Homo sapiens: one gene and its partners. The protein of the gene in region 3 purifies or fractionates together with the protein of the main gene of each other region. This does not show direct contact. Each region holds a gene or a part of one and is shown on either strand. Other genes may lie near its edges.

Region 1 (7,547 bases), on a different chromosome or scaffold from region 3:
GGAGGCCAAGGTGGGAGGATCACTTGAGGCCAGGAGTTCAAGACCAGCCTGGCCAACATGGCAAAACCTGTCTCTACTAAAAATACAAAAATTAGCTGGTCATGGTGGTGGGCACCTGTAATCTCAGCTACTGGGGAGGCTGAGGCACAAGAATCTTTTGAACCCAGGAGACAGAGGTTGCAGTGAGCTGAGATTGTGCCACTGCACTTCAGCCTGGGTGTGACAGAGCGAGACTCCATCTCAAAAGAAAAAAAAGAGAGAGAGACTGGAAAAAGAGACCTAATCAAGTAAAGGAAAAAATTTAATTAAAAAAATCTAGACTATGGAAGATAATTAATATGTACAAGTTTTATTGATCAATTTATTTAAATTTACTAAAATAATTTAGAATTAATTGTGCTGCCTAAGTCATCAGGCATTTCAGCAACAATTGCTTTTAACTCAGTTCGAACTTAAGAAGGGATATTGTGACTTTTTAAAGCCCTGAATCAAGTTCTTTTCTGAACTTGGTCAACTCCCAGCTGCCATTTAGATGGTTTTAAAGTATTCGGTCCTGGATTTACGCCATAAACTTAATAAGATTCTGCTCCAGCAACATGTAGTAAAAACTGTTTTTCTCTTGGCTTTTTAAAGTAAACAAACAAACAAACAAAACAGTTCTCATAAATTCCTTTTAATCAATTCCTTTTCTTTCCATCTTACTACATGCTTTTGTCACTTCATTAAGTAGATACTATGTGCCAGTTTTTCTGCTAGGTCCTGATAACTGTTAAGATGAACAAGACAGGGTTTCTAGTTCCAAGGAGCACAGAATCTGGTGAAGACAGCAGATATGCCAGTGAAGGATTATGACAGAAGGTGACTGAGCCTCCTGTAAATATGAGCAGCACTCTGTTTTCTCCTGACCTCATATTGCGTTCCCACAGCAGCTCCGAGGCTGTTCTCAGTGTATGCTGATCTTCACTTTTATTGAGTGTTTTCTCTGGAAAAAGGCCAATAAAAACATTTCATTTCTCTTTTGGACAATATATATTTCTAAGAGCCAGGTTTTTCTGCACCAAAACCTTACAACCAATGGTCTGCACTGGTTTTCCAGCCATGCTTAAGCCCGTATTACCAACATTTCTGGTCCCAGTCGCCTCTGCAGGGGAGTCTCTTCCACTAGCGTGTTTCTGTTTCCAGCCCTCAATGGATACCTCTTCGGAAACTTCCCGGAGCCTGATATGTGTGTTGGAGAATCTGTGTCCTGGCACCTATTTGGAATGGGGAATGAAATAGACATCCATTCTATCTATTTCTATGGTAACACCTTCATCAGCAGAGGGCATCGGACTGATGTCGTCAACCTGTTCCCAGCCACCTTCCTTACAACAGAAATGATAGCCGAGAATCCTGGGAAGTGGATGATAACCTGCCAGGTCAGCGACCACCTACAAGGTAAAAAGGATAAAGACCAGAGTTGATATGTTTAGAATGGTACAATCAAACCACACAGTCACTAGTGCTCATCCAGTACCTACTGTTAGATAGAGCCTTGTATGTACTATATTTAATTAGGTAATAAATATACAGGAAAATATAACGCTCATCTCTTTGATATTCTATCAACAGATATTTATTGACCACTTCTGTATGAAAAAAGTGGGGAAGTGATTAAAAATTGATGAGACCTTCGAGGAACCTGTAGTATAGTTGTTAGACATAGTTAGACATTCACAAAATGAATACGATTTAAGGCAGAATGAGATAAATGCTCTTTGGGTGTTGCAGTCACTACTCTGGAGCAATCAGAGGGGCTTCCTGAGGAGCTGGCTCCTAACATGAGCCTTGAAATATGAGTAGGAACTGAATAGATGAAGAAGGAAAGAAAGACTTTTGAGGAAGCAGCATGAACTGGGAAAAACACATGTTCTTTTTGAGCAACTGTAAGTAGAGTAATAAGGTTTTAGCACTGGAAAGGACTTTCTGGATAATAAGGACCAATCCCCCCTCGAATTATTTAATTTCGTTTTGAACATCTCTTGTGAGTAGTTATAGCAGCTCATCTCATCTCTGGACTGCTCTATTGGAATGTTCTTCCTCAAATTGAGACAAAATCCATTGACCTATAGCTTCCTTCATGTCCTATGATAGGTGCATGATAAACATTTGTTGGCTTAAATGCCTGTTGAATGACCTGGTCCTGGTTTCTTCAGACATCATACACTATGTCCTTTCTTAGCTGGACCATAATGTTCCTTACAGAGAAGTGATGACAGAAGAGCCTGGGAGGCTCATCAGGCCCCTTAGCAAAGCTAAGGAGGTGGGGCTGTGTGATCCTTAGCTCTTTTGGCACACTAGTGACATAATCGGTGCAGTTATTTAAGAAGATAAATGTATGCATGCAAGAAGGACTTGATGGAGGAATTCTGACCACTGGATGCTAGTTAAGAAGCATTTGACAGTGTTAGAGGTCTAACACCTAAACGTCTGCCCTAAGATGATGAAACCAAGACAGAAAAAATATGTTAATGGAATAGACACAGAAGAAATAATGTCTGATATTTGGATACTAACTTCCCATAGTCACTAATAGGTGCAAAGATCCAGCTGCTCAGGGCTGCTTTTGTAACACATTCTTGTTCCTGTCCACCTTCCACAGTGAGTCATAGCATTAGTCAACTGCAGTATCCCAATTACATTCAACTGAAAAATTAATCAGTTAATATGTACTAGATGCTCTTCTGGGAAAACAAAGATTAACAAGAGAAGGTTTCTATTCTCAAAGAGTCTTATGCTGTTAAATCTGGGAAGAAACTGTAGATTTAAAATCAAGATATTAGCTGCCATTTGAGACTAGTAAGATCGCTAAATTAGCCCGATAGTTGTGGACATAAGCTAGTATTTATACGTTCCCTGAAATACAGTATTTCTAAATTGTCCATGCCTTCAGAAAAAAGTTATTGTAAAAAAATTAGAAAATACATATAATTGGAGGTTTTTTAACAAATAGAGACAGGGTCTTGCTATGTTGCCCAGGCTGGTCTCAAACTCCTGGGCCCAAGCAATCCTCCCACCTTAGCCTTTCAAAGTGCTGGGATTATAGGCATGAGCCACTGGATCTGGCCCCTATAAATTGGTTTTAAAATCAGTAGTTCCATAATAGAAATATTTTATATTCACATTTTGGTGAATATCTTCCCTATTTTCTATTTCTTAATATGTAAATATATATGTATTTTAAAAAATGAAATCAGTCTATTAATGCTGCACTGTAGCTAATTTTTCTCATTTACAAATATATCAGAAACACATTTTCATGTCGGTGAATATAGAGCTTACTTCATCATGGTTAATACTTCCAGTGTCCATTATAAGGAGATTACATCTTGCTTAATCAATACTCTATTGCTTAATGCTTATGTTTCCCACCAATTTTTTTGCTATTATAAACAGCACTGATGACTATTATTTATAGATGTTTGCACTTTTGTCTGAACATTTTCTTAGAAAAACTCCTAGATTTAGAATTTCTGGGTCAAAGAGTATGATTTTTTTAAAAAAGCTATGGACATACATTGCCACATTCTCTTTTGGAAATTGTTATTCTTCTACACGAAGTGTATGAGTATGGCTCTTTCCCCATTCATCTACCAACACTGAGAATTATTAGTCTTTCTAATCTTTACTAATCTGATCAATGAACAATAGTATCATTTGAAAACTGTTAAGGTTTGAGTACTATTTGAGTACTGTTAAGGTTGAACCTCTTTTTCATTTGTTTATTGGCCAATATTATTTATTTTGTGAATAAACTATTTCTGTTCCTTGCTCATTTTCTATTGGAGATTTACTTGTTTTCATCTTTATCTGTAAAAGTGATTTACGTATTAATCTTTTGTCATATGTGTCACAAATATCCCTCCTGTTGCCATTTATCCTTTTTAAAAAAACTTTCTTTATGGTCCAATTTTCTGTACAGAAGCCTAAATGTTCAAGAGCCAAATCTATCAGTCTTTTCCTATATGATTCCTTTTGTGATCATTTATGCCTCAGCTCGTGGTTTTCCTCTGTTCTGCAGCTGGTATGCTGGGGCAATACAATGTTGATAACTGCAAAAGTGATATTTTCTACCCCAAGATGAAGGGTCAACAGAGGCGCTACTTTATAGCAGCTGAAAAAATTCTTTGGGATTATGCTCCTCAAGGCTATAACAAATTCAGTGGTCTTCCTCTAAACGCCTCTGGCAGGTAAGCACCCTTTGTTGGTGTTTCTAAGCCTCTCGTCAGAGAAGCATGTGTTAGGCTTTCTCTGTGATCTAATTTGTATTCCAACCACTGCTCTGATGAGCTTATACTGCATAGATGGCATAATGTAGCTGCTTAAGGTGTTCTTAATACTGCAAAAGCACTGCTGAGAACTGGTAGAATATTTTTTGTTTTGTGACTTGACGGCTGAATCAAAACACTAGATCATTCACTCATTGATCAAACATTTCTTGAGTAGGCACTATGTGCAAACTATAGTGCAAAGTGCCATTAGAAATACTAAGCTGACAAAGAATAGAGTAAGGCCTTTACACATATGGAGCAGACAGTCTTGAAGAGGGAATGACAGGAGATGGAGATGACCTGGCCTAAGAGGGTTACCCTTTTTGGTTCAAGGATATCCTGATTTAAGTTGTGTCCCCTTTATGTCCTACAAATATTCTTTTCCTTTCTATTCAGTAAAATGCCATTTTTCTTTCAAAGCCTTACTCTAATGTCACCTCTGAAGTGAAACCTTTGACTCTTGATATAAATGAATTATGTTCTCTCTGCGCTCCCATAGAATATACTATTTAAAAAATTAATCTAGCAATTTATTAGGTGGATCTGGACTCCTGTGACTTGTTAGTATATAATCATATGCAAAGTTGTCTGTGAAGATACTAAAAAATGTACAGTGTGATATCAAGAATCCTTTTTTATATTTAAGGGAATGTTTTAAAAATTCTCTTTGTGATCAATAAAACATCATTTGTTTCTTTAATTGTACATTTTATTCATTCATTCATTCATTCATTCATACTTTCACTCATTATTCTACCAAACGGATGCACTTGAACCCTGTCTAAAGAATTTGTGTGAACCATATGTGAAAGACTCTGATATCAACATTCTCTATTGACTAGTATTTCTCCATAAACAGAATAATGAGAATTAGCATTCAAAATTGTCTTAGGAGCCTTCTAGAATTCTGAAGTGCCTTCTGAAATAGGAAAGATTAAACTATATTCAATCAATGTTTAATGTGATATATGAAAGCACAAAGTGCAAGATGACATGAGGGATGCAAGGATATCTAAAGCAATAAAATGCAGAGGAAGAAGCTGGGTTCACAAGAGTAGAGAAGTAACTGCAAGTTACAAATAAAAGTGAGGTGAGTTGTCCTGGTAGTGAGTTATCTGGATGCTCAGAGAGAGCTAAGCTGGCCAGGGAACACATTATAGAGGAAGTGAGACTTAAGCAAAATCTTAAGGAGTGATAGAATTTATTTAACTGAATAGGGAAGAGAGGAATTTTAGATGGAGGGGTTGATGCAAAGCACCTGTGGCATGGGAGGAATGAACAGATGAGACTGCAGTAACAATTTGCATAGAAGAATGGGCACTGGCATGGAGAAATAGAGAATTGGGGTAAACGGGATATCAATTGCAGAGGTCCTTTAATCTTTTTGAACATTATTTGATTGGCAATTGGAAGCAATTGAAGATTTTGGAGCAGGTAAATAGCAATAACAATTGCCATTTTGGAGATTAATGTATTAAGTGAAAAAATAAGCACAGTCTTGGCCATTGAAAGTAATTTGTAATCACGGTCTTGGCCATTATGACCATTATGGCTTACTTTTGCACCAATCTAATAGTTGTGTGTCTATGCTGAGAAGAAAAGTGAATGAGCCAGTATCAGATAGAGGATGCAGTTCAGAGGTTCATATAATGGGCTCCACCCAGTGTGATTAGGGCATGAACTGGGGTCGTGGTAGTGGGAAGAAAGGAAAAGAAAAGATGCACAAGGAGGATAGAAAAGGAAGAGTGCCAAAAAATTTTACAAAGTAAGGATGAATGAGTTAAGGGAATGAAGCAGAAAAAGAAAATCTACGTGGCTGCAAGAGTGATGGCACCATTGATGGAAATAAGATAGTATAGAGACAGTATTAGTCAGAATTTATATTATCATATTCACGACTTGGAAATTTTGCATTTCATGCATATGGTTTATATGGTAGCCCTCCAATAATTACACTATTTGATTAACTAGACACTCCATTCCTTAATAATGCCAGAAATCAAAGAGCTTACTAGATGCAGAGAATATTCATATTAATATCAGCAAGAGAGAGAGGGATGCTTATTCTGCAGAGAAACCAGTTAGCTCTTTGTTACTTTGTAGAACACCATTCTGGAACTCTACTATTGGTAAATAAGGAGTTTACTTGTGACTGGTTCAGTGCTGGACCTCTTGGGAAGAAAGTACAATGGCTGAGAGAAATGAGCTTGAGTATCACCCAGCCTCTGAAGACTTTTAGGGCTGGTTAACTATTCCTGGGAACTCTGTCAAGGCCTGTGCTGTCTTTTCTGGGGACATGGGTGGGCGAGTGGACTAAAAGTGATAGAATGAAGTTCTATAATTAAAGTATTTGGTGGATATGTTGAGAAGTGTCCTCAATCACATTCCTATGTCTTTTCAGTGACTCTGATCTCTACTTCACACAAGGGGACAACAGAATAGGAGGAAAATACTGGAAGGTTCGGTATACTGAATTTGTTGATGCAACTTTTACTAAAAGAAAGAGACTCTCTGCTGAAGAAGCCCATCTTGGAATTCTTGGTACAGTAAAACCATCCCCCATGCATTGAACCCAGGGAGATGTTTTAGCTGGGCATGTACATCTGCACAGAATGACTCTTCTGCTTTACTTCTTTCTGTCTCTTTTCATTCTCTTCTCTCTCTTCTTCTGGATATTTTTTCAGGCCCAGTCATCAAGGCAGAGGTGGGTGATACCCTGTTAGTGACCTTTGCCAACAAAGCCGACAAGGTCTATAGCATTTTACCCCATGGTGTGATCTATGACAAGGCATCTGATGCAGCCCCAAACCTAGATGGTAAGTCTCACTCTGGGCTTAGGGAGGAAACAGGACGGGTGAGCAAAGCACTTAGAAATAAACAGTCCTGGTTCAAATCCTGGTCCTTTCCATTACCTGCCCTGAGAGCTTGGGCAATCACTTAAACTTTCTGAACCTGATTCTCTCCTGTCAAATGCAGATAACAATACTCACCTCACAGGGCTTTGGAAAGGGATGGAGAGAATTTAGGACAAGGTCTGGCCCATGGTAGGTTCTTAGGAAATGTTCATTTCTTTCTTTTTTTCTCAGCAATATAGTAAATCTCAAAAGTAAGCTACTTTCACAGTCACTTCTTTTTCTCTAAGATGGAGAGCTTTTCAGTTGCAGGTTGCATAGGATTCTGCAGGTGAAGGCTGAAGGGAAAATTTGATTTCTAATGGTTTGTTGACATCGAAATCTT
Region 2 (7,547 bases), on a different chromosome or scaffold from region 3:
AACCAACCCAAATGTCCAATAATGATAGACTGGATTAAGAAAACGTGGCCCATATACACCATGGAATACTATGCAGCCATAAAAAATGATGAGTTCGTGTCCTTTGTAGGGACACGGATGAAGCTGGAAACCATCATTATCAGCAAACTATCACAAGGACAACAAACCAAACACTGCATGTTCTCACTCATAGGTGGGAATTGAACCATGAGAACACCTGGAAACAGGAAGGGGAACACCACACACCAGGGCCTGTTGTGGGGTGGGGGGAGGGGGGAGGGATAGCATTGGGAGATATACCTAATATAAATGACAACTTAATGGGTGCAGCACACCAACATGGCACATGTATATACATGTAACAAACCTGCACATTGTGCACATGTACCCTAAAACTTAATGTATAATTAAAAAAAAGAAAAATAAATTATTGAAATAAAAAAAGAAGAAGAAGAAGAAAATAATTGATGTTTATTGGAGGGCGTTTTAAGAACGAAAGGTAAAATCCAAGACAGCTGGATAATGGCTGAAAGATCAAAGCATAAAATGGAAAGAAAAAAAACAGAGAGAGTAATGCACCAAAGAAGAAGAAGGACAGGAATTATAATTCAGTTAATAAAGTGGTGGCTAAAACATAATGGCAACCAAAGGAGCAAGCTGGAGACTGGATGGTCCCCTGGAAAGTCAGCAAATCACTGAGGCCCATGTGGATATATAGCAAGTGATCCAGGCCTTCAAAGAGCCCCTTCTTCCTTCCTGGCCAAGGGTTGAGGCCAGGCGGGGTGGAGCTAGAATGGAAGCCAGGGAGGGACTAAAGGGAGAACAGGCCTCAGCCAGCTAAGCAGAGGTGAGGGAGCAGAGAGGAAGCTAAAACTCCATTCACCTGCAGAGAAAACTGCTACTCTTATTTAAACTTTGTGCCTTAAAAATCTATATAAATAAAATAATATAATAACCCTTATCATATAAAATAAAATACTTATATATAATGTGTACTATAAAATAGTATCTGCATAATTCAAAATTTTGAAGCATATATGTGTACGTATTAAAATCTCATAAATGTACAACACAAAGAGTGAACCGTAACGTAAATTGTGAAGGCCAGGTGTGGTGGCTCATGCCTATAATCCTAGCACTTCAGGAGGCTGAGGCTGAGGATTGCTTGAGGCCAGGATTTCAAGACCAGCCTGGACAACACAGTGAGATCCCACCTTTACAAAAAAAAAAAAAGCCAGGCATAGTGCTGTGTGCCTTTAGTCCCAGCTACTTGGGAGGCTGAGGCAGGAGGATCACTTGAGCCCAGGAGTTTGAGGTTAGAGTGAGCTACCATCATGCCACTGCACTCCAGCCTGCCCAGGAGTTTGAGGTTAGAGTGAGCTACCATCATGCCACTGCACTCCAGCCTGGGCAATGGAGCAAGACCCTGTCTCTAAAACAATAATAATAATAATAATAATAATAATAGTAATATGTCAGTATTGGCTCATCAATTGTAACAAACATACCAAACTAATGCAAGATGCTAATAACAGGTGAAACTGTAGGCCTGGGACGGGAAGGGGAGTATATGGGAACTCCTTGTACTTTCTGCTTATTTTTCTGTAGGCATAGATCTACTCTAAAAATAACATCTACTAATTTTAAAAAAAAAGAAAGAGCAAGAGAGAGGATGCTTGACATCAGGTCACATGATAGTGGACCTGGCAGTGCGTAGCAACGTAGTGCCTTAACTGCCTAGGAGGTGAGGGAGACACTCTAGCCTTCAGTTAAGAACCTGGCTCCAACTACCTGGGCCCAAATCCTGATCCTGCACACACCCTTGACTAATTATGTAACCAGTTACCCACCCCTCTGTGCCTCAGCTCCCTCACTGGTAAACAAGAGTGTGGTAACAGTCTCTAACTCATCAGCCTGCTGTAAGAATTAAATGAGATAATGCACGTAGGCAACTTAGCACAGTCCCTAGAACACTGTAAGTGCCAAATAAATTTTGGCTGTTGTTAATATTAAGGAGGAAAGGCCCCAGAAAGAACCATGGGTCCTTGGAGGTGACTGAGCCAGTGGCAATAAGGGAGGGCTACCGGCCCAGCTCTCACGGCCCACACAGACCTGTTGGCACAACTCTTTGCCAAGGCAGGGGGTGCCTTTGTGGAGAGCACCTGCCTTCTCCTTACCTTCTCCAAGCCTGTGGACTCATCCTCCACATCCTTGGGTAGTAGGATGAACATGCTGAGATGCTTATTTTGAAAAGGAAGCTCTATGATCTTACAATTGATACTGTCAATGTTTCCCATACAGAACGTGGCCTCCATGTTCATCATCTGCACTGGTTTGGTGTCTGTCTGTAAAAGGGAAAATTTGGACTGCTTACTTTTCAATTTACACATGCATAAATATATATATATATATATATACACACACGCGCGCACACACACACACATATATACCCACATGTATATATACAGACACACATACATATATACCTACACCTATATATATACAGATACACATACATATATACATACACCTATATATACACATATACATATATATGCATACATACATATACATACATATACATATACACACACCTATATATACACACTTATATATACATACTATATATATATACCCCATACATATATACACACATGCACATATATACACATATATAGGCAAACACATAAATATATATGTACATATATATATATACACAAATTTGCTCTTGACACAGTGTCAGATTATTATGGCTTATAATTCATCATCCACTCAGATCCAAACTGTATTGCACTGAAACCAGAGACTGTCCTGTGAAGAGTTTGTGTTCCTTTGAAAAGTTATTCATATACTTTATAATCTACATGTTACACATTACATGAAGTATATATAATACTGTATTTGCATAGATCAAACCTTAAAAATAAGACTGTATGGCTGTAAATATAGGCAACGTTTGTTATTCTTTACAGATGCCTATGAGATCTTTAAACTATTCCTGGTGGAGCTGACTTGAAAGTAAATTCTACTGCAAACCCACATAACCATTTATACGGCTTTTCCTAATAAAATGCCTAATTTCAAAAACTGGCTGGGCACGGTGCCTCATGCCTGTAATCCTGCACCTTGGGAGACCACTTGAGGTCAGGAGTTCAAGACCAGCCTGGCCAACATGGTGAAACCTTGTCTCTACTAAAAAATACAAAAGTCAGCCAGGCATGGTGGCACACGCCTGTAATCTCAGCTTCTTGGGAAACTGAGGGAGGAGAATTGCTTGAGCCTGGGAGCCAGAAGTTGGTGTGAGCCAAGATCATACCACTGCACTCACTCCAGCCTGGGCAACAGAGCGAGACTCCATCTCAAAACAAAACAGAACAATAACAACAACAAACTTAGCACATAGCAGAACAAAACAATATTTGTTGTGACCTCTCTGTTTGTCTTTGGTTTGAATTGCCCACTCCCCACTGTACTGCCACCTACTCAGATCTGAGCTAATTAACAAAGTCTAAATTGAAGATAAGAACCTTGGTTTTTAGTCCCAAATGTGACATAAACAGATTCTGTGGCCTTGAGCAAATCACTCAATCTCTCCAGGCCTCAGTATTCTTGTCAGTAGAATGAAGAAATTGTAAATTCAGAATAATGGTTACCACTGGGGAGGAAGAAAGAGGAACAGGACAGTGGAGTGAGCAGTGAAGGGATACATACAAAGCAATGCAACTGTTGTTATATTTTTTCTTTAAAATATCTGAAATAATTAAGGCAAAATATTAAGTTCAAAAAGATGATTGATCGGTATATGGGTGTTCGTTTTATTATTCTCTATCATTTTCTGAATGCTTGGAGTATTGCATAATTTTTAAAAAGGAAAATGTTCTTTAAAATTATCTCTAAGTCTTTTTAAAATTATCTCTAAGTCCCTTTGAGCTCCACTGTATGCTTGGCTCTTTTTTTTTTTTTTTCAGAAACGTTGTGTTCAATGGTAAAGCTTAGCACAGCCCAGCACCAAGAATGGTGTGCAGCCGCAGCAGCAGGGACAGGCAGGTGACCCCCACAGAGCTTCACATGGCGAAGAGGATAAGGAAGGCGACCATCAAACAGAAGAGCCCCATGGCCTCAGACAGGGCAAAGCCCAGAATCGCATAGGAGAAGAGCTGCTGCTTGAGAGATGGGTTCCTGGAATAACCAATGATCAAGCTGCCAAACGCTATTCCAATGCTAGCCCCTGAACCAACCACACCAACTGTGTCTGCCTCAGCACCAATAAACTTGGCTGCGGTGTCAATGTCCCAGGAGACAACCTGGTCTAGAACTCCTGTCTGGCCACACCTAAAGTGGGGAGCTGCTGTAGGAAGGCTGTTTAGATGAATGCTCTGGGCTATTCAAGAAGGAGGCAGACACAGGCCGGATTAGACCCCTAGTACAACAGCGGATCAGAGCTGGAGAAATAAGTAATGCCCCGGTGGGCTGCATTTTCTCAGTCTCCCAACTTTAGCCCTTGGTCTCTCCCTGCTCTTCTTAAAGGGAGCCCATGGAAGGGTCTGATCGTTCAGGTCTTTTATGTCCAAGCACTGCCCAGGCCTTTTCTTCTCTTTGCTCCTATTAACACCTGGCCTCCTGTCTCTGCTCCAGAGATGACTGATTTCCTGAAGGAAAATTAATTCACGCTAAGTTGTAAAAGACTGACAGTAATGTTGTATAACCTATTGACATATACCTCCCATGGGATATTTGCCTGTTAACTAAATCTCTTTGGGGAGAAATTTCAAACTTCATATCAAGCCTGCAAGGATAATACTCCAGTAAACTTGCATCTGGTATCTTCAAATACTAAGCTGAACCTTCCCCAATACCTCTCTCCAGCAGAGCTAAACGTTATTTATTTTACTTTTGTATATACCTCTATTTTAACACTTGCCACAGTGTTAGAAATATTATCTAGTGATTGTCTTTCCACTTCCCACCCCAACTAGAATACAGTCAAGGCAGAAACTAAGTCTCATTTTCTACCCCAGCTTGTAGTTTCTCACTGAATATTTGGCTGATAAATAATGGAAGACTTCAACTCTATGTGTAACCAAAAACAGAATTATAGGAAAACATACTACTTTGGAGGTTAACAGATAATTCTTCCCTTTATTTCTCCTAAAGAGGATATTGTCTTAAAATATATTCCTCCTAAAGAAATTTGTCTAAAAATCTCCAACAGGTTAGACTGCTCATAGTTTCTGAATGTGCACATAGTTGTGGCCTCCAAAAACTGTCATCAATTTCACTTATCGGCACTGACTACAGGTACTTTATTTTCTGAAACACATGTTGAGACGACATATCTTCTGAAAAGAGGACCAAATAAAGACTATCTACCCCAGAAAATATAATACAACATATATACTAATATAGATATATATGGATAGATATCTTTATCAGAATAAGTACTATACTAAACTTTTAATGATATAACTTCACCAATTTAGTCTAACCCTTACCGGAGACACCACGGGGCATAAGAAAAGGTTTAGTAATGTCACTCAAAAAGTTCTAGGGTGGACAAAGCAATTCAAAGAAAACAAAGGAGAAGTAATAGCATCTGCATTCAAAAGAAGGGTGTAGCCTCATGCAGCTGTGAATAGCATTTTATTGCTTTATCAAGTGAAACACTGAGAGATCAATGACATTTCAAACTTTTATTAATTCTGTTCATAAAGGCTGAGTTTCCAGGATCTTATATAACCCAGCTTTATGATTTAATAGCAAGAATAAAGGAATAGCACACATTCTTCCTCCCTTCTCAAAAAACACACGTTAATACTTTCTTAATGAAAAAAGTACGACCCTTAGTGTGGTTGACACAAAAGTCCACATTCTACTCATTGACTATTGCAACATTTTCATGGTGTTCCTTCCAGGCTGGCTCTGGGGTCTTGAAGAGAGGCACCATTGGCAACCTGTTTCAGATTTCACTTAAACAGAGTTAGGAACCCTTTGCCAGCCCTTGCTATGGAGGAGAGCCAATCACTAATCAAAGGAGCCAGAAGGGTCACTCTATGACAGCAAAGGCTGTGTGGATGCCGTCAGGGCCAGTGGGGCCAACACCCCTCCCTAACTCACAGTAGAGGCTGGGTAAAGTCACGTTCCACTTCCACTCCAGATAAAAGACAATACTGAGAAGGTCAAAAAGCCATGCTTAAAACTCAAGGACCTGTGTGTGCAAAACACAAGAGTGTGAAGAGCATAAGCTATGTCTCTAGAATCTCAGACAGACCTCTTGTGTGCAGGGTCAATCCTGTCTCTGCAGTCAGCTTTGAGAAGACCACTGCAGTTGGGAAGCTAAACTCAGGAAGTTAGGAGGACCTCCTACCCATCCCTCAGCTCCCATGGATATTTTGAGTTGGTAAGGAGCAGTAACAGTCATCATTGTCTTCTCCCAGTGAAAATGCCCAATGGGTCTTGCATAGGAAACCATGGTAGTCCCAAAGGCCAGTCAGGTTTTGTCTGCTATTGATTGTTTAAGCAAACTGACCCTTAGGGACTGATCATTCATTCAGCAAATTTGCTGAGCACCTACTGATGTGTTAGGGACTTGGCCAGAAATTGTAGACACTGAGGTGAATAAGGCATTGTCCCTACCTTAAAAATCCCATGCGCTAGTAGGGGATCTATGTAAGTAAACAGATTTCACTGTGGAAAAGCAAATTCTGGCAGTGGACAGGGGAGAGTATGAATAAAAATTCCATGGGAACAAAGAAAGAAAGAGTAATGGAAGCCATCCGGCTAACCCAGGCATAGATTGTATCTTGCAGGGCTTTTCCTCATGGATGCTAGCATTAAGAAGGTGCTACTATATTTGGCAAAAACAAGATATTGATGCTAAGTACTCTAACTACTGGGAGAAGCATGAAAACTAGAACTGACGCGTAGGAGCTACAGGTAACTAAGCTACCTTCAAGTATTGTACTAACTGAAGTGCTGCTTCCAGTCTAACACAAGTCAGATCCCACCCACGGAGACCACATCACATCATCATATAGATGTCTGGGTTTTCCAATAAAATGGGTCAAATTTCCAGTCTCAGTTCCTTGATCTCATTTACAAAAGAGGTACTTTACCCATTTCTTTTTTTTTTTTTTTTTTTTTTTTGAGATGGAGTCTCACTTTGTCACCCAGGCTGGAGTGCAGTGGCACAATCTCAGCTCACTGCAACCTCTGCCTCCTGGGTTCAAGCCATTCTCCTGTCTCAGCCTCCTGAGCAGCTGGGATTACAGGCACATGCCACCATGCCCAGCTAATTTTTGTATTTTTAGTAGAGATGGGGTTTTACTATGTTGGTCAGGCTGGTCTCAAACTCCTGACCTCGTGATCTGCCTGCCTCGACTTCCCAAGGTGCTGGGATTACAGGCATGAGCCACTGTGCCCACCCTCTATTAATTATTTAACATATTTACTTCAACAGTATCAATGAGACTGGCCTGCAAAACAGGCCCTTAATTCTTCCCATAATGACTTCCAGTGATGTCAATGAGTAAGCCATACTTTGTTTTTTC
Region 3 (8,148 bases):
CCCTTAGATTCTTGAGCCCCATGTTCCAGTGAGCTCAGCTCCCACCCCCACATCCCAGGATCAAGCGTTTGATGCCTGGACATGGAGACCTTTTTATATTACCTTATTTCACTCTGAGATGCTGAAGGACCAGCACAGTGAGTAAAGACAAAATGAAAATACCTATGAGTCACACTGTTACAGTCAGCTAAGTCATGTTTTGACTCTTGTTATGCTTAAGGGTGTAACCAAAAATAGTGATGGGTACCATTTATCAAACATCTATTATATCTATTACATGGCAGACGTTGAGCTGGGTGCTTTTAATTCTCACAATAACCCTGTGAGGTAGGTAGGTATTGTTATTTCCACTTCACAAATAAGGAAATTGAGGCTTACAGGATTTAAGTAACTTACTTTAAATTTAAGTTACTTAACTAACTTAAGTAACTTAAGTAACTTAAATTATCCAAGATCACACAGGCAGGATGTTGGGGAGCTAGATTCAAACCTATGTCACTGATTCCAACATCTGTGTTTTTTTGCATGGCACCTACGATGACCATTGCCCTTCACTATTCTTCTGGGGGGCGCCTTATGTCCTACTCAGTTGCATCCAAGTCTTGGCTCTTCTGCTCAACTCTGACTTTGCTGATGGCAGGTGTCTCTTATATGCCTAGCGCAAGCATCTGAGGAATGATTTTATTCCTAGAAGAGTTTGCAGTGAGGCAGGCTTTCTGGACCGGTTTTTCCCCGTGACAGATTTCCAAAAGATTGGTGCCCTGTGGGGAGTCAGAAGCAGCTGGGGACTCAGTAAATATTTGTTGAATGAGTGAATGTGATGTTCATATATTTGGTCATTCAATTCAAGTGGAAGATCAAAATCAGGAGCGCTATAGCCCTGTGCTGTTTTCCCCTGAGTCCAGCACAGTTCTGGATGCACTAGGGTGATATTCTGGGAGAGATTTGTGCTTCATTCCCCTCCTTAGACAACAGGAGCAGCACACTTACACGCCCATCTGGTGGTGCACTGCCCAGGGGAGCGTGGGGGCAGGGATCTCCTGAGATATACTCTCTGGCTGCTTGGCCGGCCAAGGGGGTACTTGGCTCTCTACGGGCAGACTCCATACTCTGGAAAGCAGCCTGGGGCCCTGGAGCAAAGGCAGGCTCATATTCACCGGCTTGAGGGCTGGTCCCAGCTCCATGGCTCACTGGCTGTATGATCTTAGCCAAGTCCCTCCATTTCTCTTAGCCTCAGTTTCATCTTTTGTCGCTGTGGGTGATAGCTGCCTGGCAGCATTATTGGGGGTTAGATGAGGACATGAAGGTCAAGTACTTGGCACACACAGGGCTTCTCTCCCCCACCTTAAGTAAGTTCTGCCCTTCAGTAGGTTCAGAAACCCCCAGAACACTCACCTCTGCAGTCAAATCTACTGATTTCTGCCTCCCCTGTGTCTTCCTCTGCCCAGGCCTGGCCCAGGCTTGGTGGGGATATGGGGGGTGGAGGAGAGAAGAGGCCTAGATTGGCTCCAGAAATACAGACCTGTCAGTCTCATGAGGACTGGGGTCCCCTCAGCACAAAGCCCTGGCCCTTGGTGGGCACAGATTTAACTACGAGTGAGTGAATGAATAAAAGAACAAATGAATGAGAAGGAAGGATCTAACCAAATACCCTGTGAGTCTCATAGCTGAGGGCTGTGGTGCCCAGAATGGGGCGAAGGAGTCCAGAACCCAGAGCTCAGGGTCCCAGATGTGCCTCACAGCCGGGGCCAGCTTACCTTGGGTAGCCGGTATTTGTCTCGGAAGTGGCTCCGCAGTGTGGCCCGCTCTGCCTTCCTCTGTGTGAACTGTGCATCCCGCTCCATCCTGCAGGGTCACCGGAGGCAGAGTCACCACGAGGGCTGAGAGAAGGGGGTTGAGGTCTTCGAGGGAGGGACAGAAGGGGTCTCTGAGTCCTAGCAGCTGCTGCATTGGTCCCTGTGTGTAGCAAAAGCGCTCCAACCCGGACATCCAGGTTTCTGCTGCCTCTGCCCATCACAGTGCCCTTTGTCGTCTCTGCCACTGGATGGAACTAGGGAACCAGGGTGGCAGTCTGTCTGGCTCTCTCTGCAGATCCTAATTATTTGTCCCTCATGGCCTCCAACTTGGTCTGCTGTTCCCTCACTGACAAGCTATGTCATGTGGGGAAAAGTATTCAGGCCAAACTTGGGTTCACATCCCAGCTCCACTACCATTTTAGGTATATCCTTAGGTAAGTCACTTACCTTCCTCTTCTGTAAAATGGGGATAAAATTTTGCAACTCACAAAACTGTTATCAGGATTGAGCGAAATAATAGCTATCATTTATGAGACTTTATCATGTGCCAGGTGCTGTGCTAAACAGTTTACATGCATTGGCATTTAATCTTCATAAATATACAAGGCATGTATTATGATTACCATCCCCACTTTCCAGAAAAGGAAACAGAGGCACAGAAAGGTTAAGTAACTTGCCTAAAGTTATCCAGCTAATAGGCAAAGCCAGGCTCTGAACCCAAGTAGCCTAGCAGCAGAGTCCAGCCCCAAACTCTGTCCCAGCACTGCGGGCACACAAGTGCTCAATGTTTGTGAGTGCCCCCATCTCAGGGTCTGTCTCCGCGACTCTGAGCGGCTGCACCACTTTTTTCAGAGCCTCAAGTTCAGAGGAGCCCCAGTTGGAAGACATAGGCGGCTGGGACCAGATCGGATTAAGGGATTATCGTTTCGTCAGAAACGCACGTGCACCCCCTTCCTCGTCCCAGGCTCCGGTCGGTCCCTCGTCCGGTCGCCCCTCCCCCCACTCCCCCTTGGCCGGAGCATGATGCTGGAGCGGGGTTTTGGGTGTCAGATAGGATGGGTCTGGGGGCAGTGTAGAGGACACCTCCCGGTCTCTTACCGTGTCTAGGAAAGTAGGGGAGAAGGGATTGGGACCTGAGGCTGGCCCGGGGATGGACTGAGCAGCTGTGGGGGTGGGGAGGGGAGGTCGTTGGAGCCAGGAAGGGATCCCACTCACTTCTCTTCCACGAGTTGCTTCTGATACTCCTCGTACTCCTCCCGGCTCATGCCCTGAGCTTCGGCTGCCGACTTGTCCCCATCTCCCTTATCCTCGCCGCCTCCCAGGCTCCCAGTGAGGTTCTTCAGCTGGCCGCCCACCATGGTCTTCACCATGAACGCCATGGTCTTCGCCGGCCGGGGCACCGGGCGCCTGCTACCACGCGCCAGGCACCGGGCACGTCCGCGCCTACTTCAGCACTAGGTTTCGCGGACAGCTCCCGCCGCGGGCCCGCGCCCCACGCTTGGCACCGCCCGCCGCCCGCCCCCGCCCGGGCCCGCCCCCACCTCCCCAAACCCCTCCTCACTGGGGGCGGGGGGCAGCACGGGGCTGAGAAGGCTGGACCACGTGCCCGCTCCCCACTCCCGCCTCCCCCACGTGCCTCCTTCAACGCCGAGCTCCGCTGGGCACTGCTGACAGAGGATTAGGGCCTGCGGTGGTGGGGTCGCTCTCCCGGGAGAGGGGTTGAGCTCATACACTCCCGGAACCCTGTTCCATAGCCTCTTCCAACTTTCTCCTCTCCTGGGCCACTAATAACTAGGATTTCAGCTGGGAGATCCAGGTAGCAGCAAGGGGTAAAAACCCAGCCTTGGGTGCCCCCCATTCTCCCCACCCACCCAAGTCACTGAACCCAGCAGCTGCCCAGAGAGCTTGACGCTGGAAAAGGGAGGGAGACCTGAGGGCGCGAGCGGGAATCCCAGTTATGGTTCCACGAGTTGGCCTCTCAGGGTTGCTCTGTCACGCGCCTCCCCTGCTGCCCCTGGAGCAGCTAGGAGTGGGGAGGGAGAGAGCTGCTCAGTGATGCTGGCTGAGCTGGGCCAGGAGGGACACTGGGAGACACTGCTCTCTGTTATGGGTGAGTTTGAGGACAGAATTATATACAGTCATGGCTCTCTTTCCCTCCATAGTCGAGGGTTCAAAGCCCGTGGGGTATCCGGTCTTTTGGAGGTTAAGCCAGGCCTTGGCCTCCTTGCCTGCTTGGAGCGCACTCCCAGCCAGGTACTCAGAAGGGGTGGAAGCCTTCACAGAGATTAGGGTGAGGCTGGAAAGAAGACCAGCATATCACAGCATGGGGAGAGGGAAATCACCTTTAACGAGGTGGGAGCATGCCGAAAGCTCAGGTGTGCGTGGGAGCTGGGCACCCAGACGGAGAGGATACTGACCAAGCCCCCACCCAAGACACTGCCTGCTTCCCAGTGATGCAAAGCAGGCTCTGAGGTGGGTCAGGCAGGCATGCTGGCAGGGAGAGGCTGCCTCCTCAGAATCCCCAGGGCCCTGGGGGTGTGTGGTGCAGGACCCAGAGGAAGGCTGCCTGTGGACAGACACTCCTGAAGGCTCTTGTTCAGCTCCTGCCTGCTGCCAGAGAGAAGGTTACAGGTTACTTGCGTCTCTCCTTTATGGGCTTTTGAAAAACCAGGACTCTCATGCTTGCCTTGCTACACTCACTGCACCACAACCTCCGCTGTTCTTGGACTTTCTGTGGCTCCTTTGGCCCGCTGCATATGGTCCACGCTTTCCCCCTGGGCATGTAAGGTCTGTCCTAGTGGCTCCAGGCTGATTGCCACCACTGCACTCCTGTGCATGTGCTGAAGCCTGTGAGCATTTCTACCTTGTGCTTTTTAAAGCTTAGCTCATTTTACTCCTCCTCCAGGACCATCCCAGCCCACACGGACTCTTCTTGTCTTGAAATTCCACCAACAAAGATTGTCAGTCTCATTGCTGAGGCCTTTAGCACACCCCACATCTCTAAACGGTGCACGTTCATTCAGCAAACACACACCAAGCAAAACTAGTGACCTCCTCTCACTTTTTCAGATCTCTTTGCCCAATTTCACAAACTCGTCCTGCCCTTTGCTCCAACATTACTGAACTTGCCACTTTTTCTCTAAAATATTATGTTTTTCTCATGCCTCCCTGCCTTTTCTCATGCTGTTCCCTCTGCCTCTATGCCTTTACCTATCTTGTCAGGGTGGAAAACTCCTAGTCACCTTAATGACCATATCAAATGTCCCTTCCAGGTTGATTCCCTAACCAAGGGGGGTCAAGTGTGTTCTCCTGCACTCTCGTAGCCCCTCAGCTTCCTGACATCATGGCATTGACGACACAGGGTCAGTTAGACCTGTGTGAGTGAGCTCCGTGAGAGCAGGACCCAGATGGGGCTGGGGGCCGAGCAGGTGGTCAGTAGTGCTTGGTGAGAGAATGGGCCCTATCCCGCACTGTGCTCTTTGTGATTTGGGGACTCGGCAGGTCCCCTCTGAGCTGAAGTGTCCCCTCTCCTAAATCCAATGGTTATAGCTGAGAACCAAGAGATGCCAGTGCTGTGGGAAATCCTGCTCACGGGGTGGCCCACCTGAAGTGCACGTAGCCGAAGAAGCCTACAGTCTGAATGAGGAGGTAGAACAGGAAGATGCCAGGCTGCAGGCACGAGGAGGCCCTTGGGGGCTGGCCAGGTGGGCGGGGGGCCTTGGCTGCTGCCTTCTGAAAGGGGAAAGTCTAAGGTCCTAGCTTAGCTTCTTACCCAGAAGGAGTGGGGGACCTGGAATCTAGGCCATGTGCATGCTCCGTTTCCTTTCCCCAGGCTTGGGGCGTCCTGGCTCTCATCCAGGGAACTTGGAGAGGGGGCAGTGTACAAAGCTGCCTCCCCCACCCCAGCTCCCATGGCTGCATCTGTGGGAACAGCTGGGAAGGCCTGGGGCCTGGGATCATCAAGGGGCCCAGGGTTCAAGAGAAGAGAAGAGAGAAGTAAAGAGCCAAAGACAGGGTGAGCAGGGTGAGGGCGAGGGAACGAGGATGGGACAGGGCATGGGGAAGCGCTGACTACCACTGGACTCAGTGATCTTGGACACAGCCCACCCTGTTTCCCCTCTGGTCATTGGATATTGGATCGAGGGGTGTCCAGGGCCCTGCTGCTGCTGAGTCTGTGGGACTCTTCAGAGAGGAGAGAGGACAGAGAAAAGATGAGATGTGTGGTGGCACGTATGCACGGACACACAGACACTGACGCAGGCACAGATGTGCTTGCCAGCAGTCCTGGGAGGGGAGGGCAAAGGCAGGAGGGCTTGGGGCTGCTGAAGTGCTGGAAGAAGGGTGGCTGAGCCCAGACGTCAAGGTTGGGGACCCCATGCTGCCCACTACTTTCCCCTCACCGCCGGGCCCCGAAGCTCCTCCTGCAGGAGGCCCAGGATGTGGTCCAGCTCTAAGAAATGATGCTCAATGCCCACAGGCAGGTAGGAGACCTGGGCTTCTGCAGCCATGCGGACAGCTGCATCCCTAACCGGGGGTGGTAACCAAGTAAGATGACTCATTACCTCTTCTGCTTCCACCCAGATGGCCTAATCATTTCCCATCTCCCCAAGGGCAGCACATGGATGGGGAACAGGTACCATCCATGGGGCCCCTTCTTGGGGGCTGGTCTTTTCACCTCCAACCTTCTTCCTAGATCCTGAGACTTTAGCTCAGATAAAGATCTCCCTAAAGCTATCTGTGTCAACCCCAGGCTCCCCGGCTCTGCCTTCCATTCCCAGCCCCTGGGGATTTAACTCCTTTCCTTCTTCTCATCTAGGTGCCTCTCCACCCCCAACCCTAGGCATCTAGCTGTGTGTGTACAGGTGGGGCTTTAGGCTTCAGCCTGGGATGCATGCCTCCTCCACAGCATCCCCAGGACTCCCCCAACCCCCAGGGCTCCAGAGGCCTGGCCTAGAGTGGGATACCGGGAAGTTAATGGGGGCACAAAACCAAGTCAGGGACTGTCTCATCCAACTGGTCTGATCTTGGCTGTGCTCCCTCTCCAAGAGCCCCCAACAAAATGCCCCTCATCCTAGGAGCTGCCATTGAAGGAATGCTCAGATTTCTTAAGCCTCCTGAGGGTGGGAGTGTCTGAGGGGGCCTTCATGATGGGCTTCTCCAGGAGAGAATTGCTTTTTAACTAGGACTTGCAAAACATTAAACTTGATTCAATTAAATTCAAGTCAACTCAACAAACCTAACTCCACCAGTAGCCCTTCCAATTGACAGGCTGTGTGCTGGGCGCTCAGGAAATGATGGAAGGAATGAAGGGCTAATGGAGGAACTTAAGGCGGAGAAACAAGGTGGTGGAGGGGTCCCCACCCAGTCCCTTACCTCATCTCTTGCAGGGCCTGGAGCAGAGTCCACTGTCCATGGAGCAGGGCACCGACCTTGGCAGAGTCCTGCAGAGGGGCAGCCTCTTGTCTAGGGCCCAGGACATAGCCCCTCTCTTCTCAGAGCCCACCTTCCCAGCGGCACTGCAGCCTCTTCCTTCCAGAGGCCTTCCCAGATTACCAGGGCCTCCTTATTTGGACACACTGTGTTTCTCTGACCTCATCCATAAGGGCATCCACATTCCCCCTCCACTCACGCCCCTCTCCCCAGGGGTGGTTGTTTCCTCCCAACAGTGGCCACTTCAGGGTTTTCTCAAAATACTTCTCCCTTCTTATTTATTTATTTGAGATGGAGTCTTGCTCTGCGGCCAGGCTGGAGTGCAGTGGCACAATCTCAGCTCACTGCTACCTCTGCCTCCTGGGTTCAAGCGATTCTTCTGCCTCAGCCTCCCAAGTAGCTGGGACTACAGATGCATGCCACCACGCCCAGCTAATTTTTGTATAATTTTTGTATTTTCAGTAGAGACAGGGTTTCACCATGTTGGCCAGGATGGTCTCGATCTTTTGACCTTGTGATCTGCCCGATGGTGTCAGTCTTTTGACCTCGTGATCTGTCCGCCTTGGCCTCCCAAAGTGCTAGGATTACACGCGTGAGCCACCATGCCAAGCCAAAATACGTCTCCCTTCTAAAAGTGGTTCTGTCCCCTGAAGGAAGCAGAGGCCCAGCCCAGTCCTCTCTGCCCTGGTTCTCCCAGAGCACCAGCCAAGCTGGGGCCAGTGCTGGTCAACACCCAGTGTTTGGGTCCCTACCTTATTGAGTGACATGGAGAGGTGGCCACCCCTCCCTGGGGTGGATGGAATCTGGCAGGAAGCATCCAGGGCCTGGGGATAGGATCAGAGAGGCTTGGCCCTGGAGTGTAAGTCCCCTCCCCTCTTCCCCACACTAGCAGCCCAGCCTAAGCTGCTCTGACACAAGATTA

The links. The genes of interacting proteins can lie anywhere in the genome.
Region 1: the proteins of CPLX3 (region 3) and HEPHL1 purify together in Homo sapiens (affinity purification with mass spectrometry; 2 studies listed by BioGRID and IntAct, with this or other methods). This does not show direct contact.
Region 2: the proteins of CPLX3 (region 3) and SERPINB5 purify together in Homo sapiens (affinity purification with mass spectrometry; 2 studies listed by BioGRID and IntAct, with this or other methods). This does not show direct contact.

What each region holds. Positions count from the first base shown.
Region 1 is NC_000011.10:94,066,314-94,073,860, forward strand, and holds part of HEPHL1 (ferroxidase HEPHL1 precursor), read left to right. Parts: intron 1-657; exon of another isoform or gene 658-982; intron 983-1,121; exon of another isoform or gene 1,122-1,182; coding exon 1,183-1,437; intron 1,438-4,060; coding exon 4,061-4,229; intron 4,230-6,711; coding exon 6,712-6,851; intron 6,852-6,994; coding exon 6,995-7,126; intron 7,127-7,547. UniProt on the Homo sapiens protein: Is a copper-binding glycoprotein with ferroxidase activity. It oxidizes Fe(2+) to Fe(3+) without releasing radical oxygen species. May be involved in the regulation of intracellular iron content.
Region 2 is NC_000018.10:63,493,918-63,501,464, reverse strand, and holds part of SERPINB5 (serpin B5), read right to left. Parts: intron 4,524-7,547; exon of another isoform or gene 3,962-4,523; intron 2,346-3,961; coding exon 2,178-2,345; intron 1-2,177. UniProt on the Homo sapiens protein: Tumor suppressor. It blocks the growth, invasion, and metastatic properties of mammary tumors.
Region 3 is NC_000015.10:74,821,731-74,829,878, reverse strand, and holds the start of CPLX3 (complexin-3), read right to left. Parts: upstream 3,253-8,148; 5' UTR 3,176-3,252; coding exon 3,012-3,175; intron 1,846-3,011; coding exon 1,758-1,845; intron 1,748-1,757; exon of another isoform or gene 991-1,747; intron 762-990; exon of another isoform or gene 178-761; intron 1-177. Other genes in the region: LMAN1L (protein ERGIC-53-like precursor), read right to left, coding at 4,274-4,403, 5,401-5,528, 6,197-6,320, 7,170-7,237, 7,979-8,050.